Regions from separate parts of the Homo sapiens genome. Here region 1 is linked to region 2. The links come from fine-mapping of genetic effects on gene expression. A gene starts in region 2. The other region holds a variant in brackets. All regions are shown on one strand. Distances are between the middles of the regions.

Region 1 (5,386 bases), 71 kb after region 2:
ATATTCAGATAATAGGCACCAGCTGCCTTCAGAACTAAAGAGTTCTCTGTCATTGGACATATTGTGGAGGGTGGCGGATCATCACTTAGGGGTATTTTGACAGTGTGAATCATTATTCCCTTTCATGCTTTTATGTAATCAAGGTAGTTTATTAAGGAACTGTTATTATGCATCCTTAGTAAAAATACGTTTCCTTTATGATCCCAAATAATTTCATAAGTGTCCTTAAATATATATGAAATTTAGGGCCAGGCATGGTGGCTCATGCCTGTAATCCCAGCACTTTGGGAGGCTGAGGTGGGTGGATTGCTTGAGCCCAGGAGTTCAAGACCCGCCTCAGCAACCTGGTAAAACCCCATCTCTACTAAAAGTACAAAAATTACCCCAGCTTAGTGGTGCGTGCCTGTAGTCCCAACTATTCTGGGAGGCTAAGGCACGAGGATCACCTAAACCTGGGGAGGTCAAGGCTGCAGTGAGCCATGACTGAGCCACTGTACTGCAGCTTGGTGACACAGTGAGACCCTGTCTCAAATTTTAAAAAATAAATAAATAAATAAATATATATATATATATATGAAATTTAATGGGTAAATCAATCAAATACCCTTCCATTTAGTTCACTTAGAGTGGCCATTCAAGGTTCTTTCACAATTTTAGTGTAATTTTTGGTGGTGGTATATAATGAAAGATCATCAAAGGTTTTACCCGAGAACATATTTCATGGAGAAATTCTATGTATTCAATTAACCAAATTAAACATGAAACATCTACATATTTTTCTTCTGAGCAAAGGGAAATAAGAATTGCCTGTATTATTTTAATAGAAACATAAGTAGCAAATATCTGAATGCTTCTCTGTAACAGCATGTTCTCAGTGCTTTCCACGGATTAATCTACCTAATCCTCTCAGCAACCATACTGTGGCTTTCGCTTGTTTCCCCTTAATCTTCAGGTTGTAAGGAACTGTAATAGCCAGTCATCTCTGGCTGTTAGAAAAGTATGCCAAATGGACACATCTGCAAAATACAGTTTTAAAGCAAAAGCCTGTCAAACTTACGGTCTATACACTCCTTACATGTAGGGAGCACGTGTTAATATTAACAGTTCCCAAAGTGCCTAGCAGAGCACCACGTGTGACACAGCAATGTAATCTTGATTTTGTGAATGCTGAGTGAATTAGTGGAGGTTGGTAAGGCTGTTGTGATCACTAATGTCGTAGCCTTAGGGGTCTTCATTGGAGTGTGGCCTACAAAGGCTTAGTGATGAATATAAATGGACTATGTTAAGCAGCTTTTCAAAGAACCATTGGTGACAGTAAGGTGGAGGTCTGTCATAGCTTATGTGAGGAGCAGAGAGATTTCAGACCTGATGCTGTCCCCTGTGCTTTTGTCCAGGCCTCCTGCTGTGGCATAGGTGTATCTTCCGCACCATTCCTCAAGTATTTCACCCTTTATATCCAAAATATGGAGTATGGTTTTTGTAATGACTGTACTTATTGAATAGAGTTGCCTGTTGATTGTTTTATTTATTTATTTATTTATTTATTGAGACAGAGTCTTACTTTGTCGCCCAGGCTGGAGTGCAGTGGCACAATCTTGGCTCACTGCAGCCTCTGCCTCCCAGGTTCAAGTGATTTTCCTGCCTCAGCCTCCCAAGTAGCTGGGACTACGGATGCACGCCACCACGCCTGGCTAATTTTTATATTTTTAGTAGAGATGGGGTTTCACCATGTTGGTCAGGCTGGTCTTGAACTCCTGAGCTCAGGTGATCCACCTGCCTCAGCCTCCCAAAGTGCTGGGATTACAGCTGTGAGCCACCGTGCCCGACCTGATTGTTTTAGACAAAAGAACGAATCATTTTCGGTTTTTCCAGGAAGTACCTCCCTGACTCAGCCCTAGGCAGCTGGGATTTCCAATTTATAAAACTCTTGTGTGCCTCCTAAAATAAAAGCAAGTTTGACCTCGCAAATACCTAGTTAACAAATGATCCCGTAAGAGGACAGTTGTCCCTGCACCAAACCACCCCCACCGCCTGTTGCTCCTGCCATTGTGAAAACACTGAGTGCTTAGGGAGCTGGTGGAGACAGGGTGGCAGAACAGCAGCAGCCGGGGTGGGCGGTGGTCCTGGCTGTTAACACTGACCCCCCATCACCTCCATGCTCATTAACCTCCTTCCTCAAAAAACTTTCTTTCAACAAGGCATTTAAAAATTCAGAATGTAACCATTTACTTTATTAGATTATCTAAAATATTATCAACTAGGAATGTGTTACTGGGATCTACTGGATGTTGCACAAGACAAGTAGGAGGGAGTTGAGAAGGAAAATACCAAACACAAACTGAAACCCTTCCCCAAATTTTCCAAAAAATCCTTTCAGATGCCATAGTTTCTGCCTTCCTGAGAAACAATTTCAATCATCATCTCTTTAAGTGAAGTACGTGAGAATCGCCAGCTAATAAAGTCTCAAAAAATTAAAAAAATCGGCCAGGCATGGTGGCTCATGCCTGTAATCCCAGCACTTTGGGAGGCCGAGGCGGGCAGATCACCTGAGGTCAGGAGTTCGAGACAAGGCTGACCAACGTGGAGAAACACTGTCTCTACTAAAAATACAAAATTAGCCGGGCGTGGTGGCACATGCCTGTAATCCCAGCTACTAAGGAGGCTGAGGCAGGAGAATCGCTTGAACCTGGGAGACGGAGGGTGCGGTGAGCCGAGATTGCGCCACTGCACTCCAG[T/C]CTGGGCAACAAGAGTGAAACTCCGTGTTAAAAATAAATAAATAAATAAATTTAAAAAATAAAGAATTTGAGTTTGGTTTTGGCCCAAATGGAGTAACTGGTACTGGTCTAGTCTTCCCACTGTTAACATGGATAAAGCTGGAAAAAAAAAATATGTATGAGGCAACTGCACTCAGGCATTAAGGTACAGGCAATGCAGGACCCTGATCCTTGGTAACGGAAAGACATAAGATGTGCCTCAGTTTTGTGCATGGGTTACTTTCTAGCTCACTGTACAGAATGGTGGGAGGCAAGCAGCATGCGGAGGTCTCATGGAGCTGCACAGGAAGAGATTAAAGTTGAGGAATGATGAAGCAGCTGGCCTTTGTAGGACAGGCACTGGAGGAAAGTGGGCTGGGCCGAAGTCTACACACGGATCCCCTGGGGATCCTTGGCTGAGAGCCGAGACTTCACACAGTGTTGCTAATAAGAATTCAGGCTAGGTGTGGTGGCTCACGCCTGTAATCCCAACACTTTGGGAGGCTGAGGCAGGCAGATCACTTGAGGTCGGGAGTTCGAGACCAGCCTGGCCAACATGGTGAAACCCTGTCTCTACTAAAAATACAAAAATTAGCCGGGTGTGGTGGCACACACCTGTAATCCCAGCTACTCAGGAGGCTGAGGCAGGAGAATGGCTTGAACCTGGAAGGCAGAGGCTATAGTGAGCCGAGATTGTGCCACTGGACTCCAGCCTGGGCGATGGAGTGAGATTCTGTCTCAAAAAAAAAAAAAAAAGAATTCTGGCCCAGTGTGTAGAGACCCTGCAGAACACCTCAGCATTCATCTGAGACTCCAGAAAACAATGCCTCATGAGTGAGAACCATGCCTAAGTTTGAGCCAGGACCTTAGCTAGGACTAAGGACAAACAACAAAACAGAATTGCCGAAAGAAATGATAAAATCAAGTCTGACAGGACCAGAAGATCCACCATAATTTATCTGCCTATCAGAACAAAATTTAACACCCTTTAAAGGAACATAATTTAATCCAGACTCCCCACTAGTGGATCACTAGAGGTTACAGTGAGCGGCGCCATTCCCATTTCCAACTCTTGGTTCCTGGACCCATGAATTCTGGCTATGGAAGAAACTGCACTGTATGCTGGATGCTGATTCAGAGCTTATACAGCCTGGGAGAACCTTGTCCCAGCCCCACAAGGTATTGCCACCTAGCTGGTGCTGTAACTGAGTCTTCAACAGGCCACTCCACCAGTCTGGCAAGCCAGCTGCTTCAGGACAGGACGGTGGGGAACAGGATAAGACCAGTAAATTCCATGTATCATCACCATAGGGAATCTCAGCAGAGAAATGAAATACACGCACACACACACGCGCGCACACACACACACATGAACCAAATTGAAATTCAGAGCTGAAAAGAACAGTTATCTGAAATGAAAACATCACCATGTGCGTAGGCTTAAAAGCATATTGGAAAATGAAAAGAAAGGAGCTGTGAATCTGCAGATAGATTAATAGAAATTATCCAGTCTGAGTAACAGAAAGAAAAAGGATTAAGATGATTAATTTGTAGGACATAATCTGGGGTTGTGAAAAGGGGGGCTTTCTTTTTGTTCCAACTTTTAGGTTCAGCAGGGGATACGTCGTGCAGGTTTGTTATATAAGTAGATTGCATGTCGTGGGGGTTTGGTGTACAGGTTATTTCATCACCCAGGTAGCGGGCATAATACCCGATAGGTAGTTTTTCGATCCTCACCTTCCACCCACCCTCTAATCTCAAGTGGACTCCGGGGTCTATTGTTCCCTTCTTTGTGTCCATGTGTACTCAGTGGTTAGCTCCCACTTATAAGAAAGAACATGCAGTATCTGGTTTTCTAGTCCTGCATTAATTTGCTTAGAACAATGGCCTCCAGCTACACCTATGTTGCTGCAAAGGACATGATTTCATTCTTTTTTATGGCTATGTAGTATTCCATGGTGTACATGTACATTTTCTTTATCCAGTCTGCTATTGATGGGCATCTAGGTGGATTCCATGTTATTGCTATTGTGAATAGTGCTGCAATGAATATATGTGTGCATGCGTCTTTCTTTATATTCCTTTGGGTATATACCCAGTAATGGGATTGTTGGGTCAAATGGTAGCTCTGTTTTAAGTTCTTTGAGAAATCTCCAAACGGCTTTCCACAGTGGCTGAACTAATTTACATTCCCACTAGCAGTGTATAAGTGTTGGAGGCTTTCCTGTGGCTGACCATTCACAGCTGGGAGCTTGGCTACACAGATGTTAGTGCTCATAAGTAAATACACTGAGATATAATGGGAGCCAGGAATCTCACTGTTGAAGAGAGTTAGAAGCTTGGGAAGGGGAAGGTTAGGAAAAGCCCTGTGGTATTGGTTTGGAATTGAAAGTATCAATGTGAATTCATGGTTTTAGTCTTTATGTATGGCTATTTAATATTTACATATATAGTTATTGGTGTTTCTGGATCAACGGGTGCCTTTGTTTATGTAAATTCAAACATTTCCTAGATTTCTTCTATGAGAAAGTCTAAAGCAATAACATCTCCGTAGCAAGTTGCACACCAGGGCTGAAATCTTGGTTTTTTTTGGTTGGGTTTTTTTTGAGAAAGTCTCTCTGTTGTCCAGGCTG
Region 2 (5,386 bases):
TAGGCAGCAGTTAAGATTGGAATGTAAGGATTTTTAAAAATAAGTTTACCTTGGAACAATCTAAAGAGGAAAGCTATGTGCTATTATAATCCTTACAGTCTTTATTTCTAATATGCCTATCTTACTGAAACTGATCCAGTAGTCCCATAGACAGTTTTTCTTAAATATAGAAATTAATCCTTCTGGTTTTAAAGCTTGAAACTCACCAGATCCAGACAATGAGATACCAGCCTCTCATTCATTGTAATTGCTCCCTTACTCCTTCCACATTCTTGTTTTCCCATACATATTTAACATTTCTTCCCCGCTATATAAACCTCTAATTTTAGTTGATCAGGAAGATGGATTTGAGACTGAGCTCCCATTTCCTGGACTGCAGCACCTGATTAAAGCCTTCTTCCTTGGCAATACTTGTTGTCTCAGTCGTTGGCTTTCTGTGCAGCAAATAGCAGGACCTAAACTGAACCCCTGGTGTTTCAGTAACATTATTTTTTACTTGTTAATCATTCACATAACCTTTTCCTCTCCTCCTTACTTTCTTCCCCATGCTCACTCACTCTCTTGCTCAGTACTGCTCTCTGTCTCTGTCTGTCTCTCTTTATCTCTCTCTAACACACACACATACACACAAATTCAGACACACAGACTCATATTTAATGATGGACTATAGCCTACCAATTGGTATGAATTTTACCTTTTGGGCCAACTCTAAAAAGAGTGCTTCGGGCTGGGCGTGGTGACTCATGCCTGTAATCTCAGCACTTTAGGAGGCCGAGGCAGGCGGTTCATGAGGTCAGGAGATCGAGATCATCCTGGCTAACACAGTGAAACCCCATCTCTACTAAAAATACAAAAACTTAGCTGGGCGTGGTGGCACGTGCCTGTAGTCCCAGATACTCAGGAGGCTGAGGCAGGAGAATCGCTTAAACCCAGGAGGTGGAAGTTGCAGTGAGCTGAGATCGTGCCATTACACTCCAGCCTGGGTGACAAAGGGAGACTCCATCTCAAAAATAATAATAATAATAATAATAATAATAATAATAATAATAAATAAATAGAGTGCTTTTGCATAAACAAAAGTTTGAACATTCTGGCCCGTCCTCACATGAACCTAGGGCTGGCAGAAGCATGAGCATTTGTCACTCATGAGAAACACAGGGTCCTATGCCTTTTTGTGTCTCCACACCTCCCATCTGTGCTTTGCTTTTGATACGGGAGGCGGGCAGGGAAGTGCTGGGTAGAGAAGAATGGGGTCCCTGGCTAGGGCTCCACCCTCAGGCCTGTACCCATGGACGTAAGTGAGAACAGGCACTCCTGTTTTCACGCCCAAATGTTGCATTTTCCAAAAGCACTCTGGCCCGCCACACCCCCATCCTCTGCCTATAAAAACCCTGAGACCCTAGCGGGCACAGACACAAGCGGCTGGACATCAAGAGGAACACACTGGCAGAATACACTGACAGACTGGCAGGACATCAACAGCAGTATGATGTGGACCACGTAGAATTTGCCTGGGGGTGGTTGGAGGAGAGTCAGGCCACTGAGCGGCCTGACTCCAGGGGAAGACCGCCTTCCCATTCCATTCCCCTTGTGGATCCCATCCATCTGCTGAGAGCTACTTCCACCAGTCAATAAAACTGTGCACCCATTCTCCAAGCCTACATGTGATTCAATTTTTCTGGTACATTAAGGCAAGAACCTTGGGATACAGAAAGCCCTCTGTCCTTGCGATAAGGCAGAGGATCTAATTGAGCTGATTAACACAAGCCACCTGCGGATGGCTAAGCTGAAAGACTGCACTGTAACACACTCCCACTGGGGCTTCTGGAGCTGTAAACACTCAACCCTAGGTGCTGCCATGGGGTAGGAGCCCATGCTCCCCATGACCTGCCCGTCTGCATGCTCCCTCTAGGGGTTTGAGCTGCAGGGTACTGAAGAAGCGAGTCACACCCATCGCACGCCCTGCAAGGGTGTTTCCAAGTTTCACTTTGAGTCACACTGCATTAAGAAGATCCACTACCTTGCATCCCCTTCTTCCTGAAGAGGCCTACAAAGTCAGACCAGCACTTAGTGTTAACAGATCAAGAGAGCCCAGCTTGACTCTACCAGCTGAGCAATATAGGTGGATACAGAAGTCACCTTTCATGTGTTCTAACAAATGAGTAACTCCAAAAAAATAGTTGTAATATTTTAATAATGTAAGTTCTTGCCACTACTCAGAGCTATAAAATGTTCAGCTATCACCTGCACTATCACGTACACACTGAGCTATGTAACGAGAATTACATTCAGCCAATGTCTGCTAAATAAAGGTTTGTGCATTTTAGTTCAATGATGTAGCTACAAAGAAAATGAAGCCTCAAGACACTAGAACCTTCTGAGATGCAAAGCTTTGAGTCCTTGACTTTGAATTCAATGTCTAAATTCTAATACATTATTATTATATCTGCCTTAAGATTGATATAGGAAATTTTTTTTCTAGTTAGTGTTATTTCTTCTAGGAGCTTAAAAAAGGTAACTAAGGAAGAATTAAATGTTCCAAAGATATATTATGGTAAACATGTATGTACATACATGGGTATTTGTCACACTTGTCAGAATCTTCTTCCTTTGAGAGGTGCAAACGTTAGCTGTCTGAGATCCACCCTGTTTCAAACTTACCTTATGCTTCCTGTGTACTGTGAGGCTCCCAGTCTTGCTGTCTTTCAATGGGGCAGCCACTGCTCAGTTGCTGCCATTCAGAAATATGAACCCAGTATCACCAGAACTTTTGATTTTTCAAGAGAAACCAAGATTCCAGATTTGTAGGTGATATCTTCCATTTTTCAGATAAAACAAAGGAACCAGAACCACATCCACTGATCGGATTTGCCTGGGGAGGAGGGGTGCTCTCTCCTTTGATCTTCTCTTCTGGAAGAGATGGACCAAAAGCCTCTCCAGCAATAATCCGTAAATATCACTTTTTACCTTTTCTCTATAAAACTCTAACTTTTCTGATATTAAGATAAAATTCTTTCATTGAGAAAAATTTAAGAGTGGCAGATTACAAACAAAAAACATTAATTCCTCCAAACAGAGATTGCCACTTCTGCCTTCTAGTATATGCTTTCCCAGCCTTTGTGTAACCAAGCATTTCATTCTACTTTTATTTTATTCTTTCCACAAATCTGAATCATACTATTTTAAATTTATTTGCAGTTAACCATATCCATGACTGTTTCTCTCTACATAGTTATTTGTCTAGATACAATTTTTGATTACTACATAGTATTTTATTTTAAATATAAATTACTGTAATTCATTGGCCAATTCCTATTGCTGGAAATTTTATCTGTCCAATTTATTTGCTATTCGGACCATTGCTATGGCACACATCTTTGTGTTCATTTCTGTTAATGTCTTTAGGCACATTCTTAGAAATGCTATTTTGGGGTCAGAATGTAGAAATATTTTTAATGTTTTTGGCTTGCATTAGTACCCTTTAAAGTTGGATAGATTGGATTCAAATCACTTTTACCTTTACAAGCAAAGGAACCTTAGGCGAGTTACCCTGTAAACTCCAGGACTTTCAATTATAAAATGGGAATAATATGACAGGGCAAGTTGTGCCACTTTATACTCCCCTTAGCAGTGTGTAAGAGAACAACTGACCTTGCATTCTTGCTAATTTTCACCTTTTCCAATGGAATAAATGAAGATGGTATTTAATTATTTTTATTACAAATAATGTAGATTTTTCAGATACTGGTTTAAAATTTTGTTCAAGAGTTACCTATTCCTATTTTTTTCTATTGGTGTATTAATTTTTTAGTTGGTTTTATGGATTATAGAGTTGACCCTTGAACAACATGTGTTGGAACCTCTCAGGTCCACTTACATGCAGATTTTCTTCTGCCTCTGCCACCCCTGAGACAGCAAGACCAACTCTCCTCTTCCTCCTCCTCCTCCTCAGCCTACTCACTGCAAGACGACGAGTATGAAGATCTTTATGATGATCCACTTCCATGTAATAAATAGTAAATGTTTTCTCTTCCTTGTTATTTGCTTAATAACATTTTCTTTCCTCTAACTCATTTTATTGTAACAGTACTGTATATAATATATATAACATACAAAATATGTGTTAATTGTCTATGTTATCAGTTAAGATTCTGATCAATAGTAGGCTATTAGTAGTTAAGTTTGGGGGTAGTCAAAAGTTACTTGCAAATTTTCAACTGCATAGCAGAGTCAGCGTCCCAACCCCTGTGTCGTTCAAGGGTCCACTGTGATATATATGTGTACACATGCGTTTTTCCTTTTTAGTCAAATCTATCAATATTTTATTTTTATTATGTAATCTTAGATTATTTTAAACTCTTTTTAATTTTTCATATTTACATATTTAACTTATCTGAGGAATTTATTGTGTAGGTGTTATGAGGCATTATCCCAACAAAATATATTGACTAATCCCTTCTTTGTCACCAATTTTAAAGATCTTTTCACTGGCTGGGCGTGGTGGCTCATGCCTGTAATCCCAGCACTTTGGGAGGCCAAGGTGGGCAGATCACAAGGTCAGGAGATCGAGACCATCCTGGCTAACACAGTGAAACCCCGTCTCTACTAAAAACACAAAAAAATTAGCTGGGCGTGGTGGTGGGCACCCGTAGTCCCAGCTACTCGGGAGGTTGAGGCAGGAGAATGGCATGAACCCGGGAGGCGGAGCTTGCAGTGAGCCGAGATCGTGCCACTGCACTCCAGCCTGGGCAACAGAGCGAGACTGTCAAAAAAAAAAAAAGATATTTTCAGTACTTCCATATGAATGTTTCTGTTTCTAAGTTTCTATTCTGTTTCAATATCTGTTCTCTTTTCCTCCAGTACCATGCTGTTAATAGCATAACATTTTTTAACATCTGGAAGTGCAAGTCCTTTTGTCAAGCATTTTTCGTTCTTTTTACCTATTTATTCTTCCACATGAAAACTAGCCTCATAGTAAGTAAAACATATAACCACGTATGTATATTAATTGGAATTTATAAATTAATTCTGAGGGAAATGACATCTTCAAACTATCAAGACTTCTCAGTCACACATCCAGCTTTTCATAAAATTCAATAGCACAGTTCACAGTTACCATCTCTGGCAGGACTGTAATCTGTGTTGCTGAACCATAAGCTTTGGCTGTCAACGAGGCAGAAGCAGGGATAAACCATAAGTTTGACTCAAAGGCCAAAACACTAGGGTGTTTGTGACTCAAAAGTTCCAAAGTTCTGGGACTCTGGCTCATTGCTATTTTTGTTCATTAATTTAACTAAACCTCCCAGATAAGTGGCTCTTTAGTTTCTTTGAAAATGTAAAAATTGGCCAGGCTAGTGGCTCACACCTGTAATCCCAGCACTCTGGG

The links. PIP is the estimated chance that this variant, and not a neighbour inherited with it, causes the effect. A credible set is the group of variants that fine-mapping cannot tell apart.
Region 1: its variant is the best candidate, but not a certain one, in a credible set for the expression of SAMD3 in whole blood (INTERVAL, PIP 0.59).

Annotation. Positions count from the first base shown.
Region 1 is chr6:130,148,837-130,154,222 of GRCh38, reverse strand. The region is part of intron 9 of SAMD3 (sterile alpha motif domain containing 3); the gene reads left to right. Among named protein-coding and RNA genes, the nearest start is that of SAMD3, 71 kb to the left of the region's middle. RefSeq lists an enhancer at 958-1,578. The variant T/C (reference allele first, on the strand shown) is at 2,736.
Region 2 is chr6:130,220,257-130,225,642 of GRCh38, reverse strand. It overlaps SAMD3 (sterile alpha motif domain containing 3), which reads left to right and starts at 2,692. Exons shown (of 12, transcript NM_001017373.4): 1 at 2,692-2,949. RefSeq lists an enhancer at 1,976-2,085.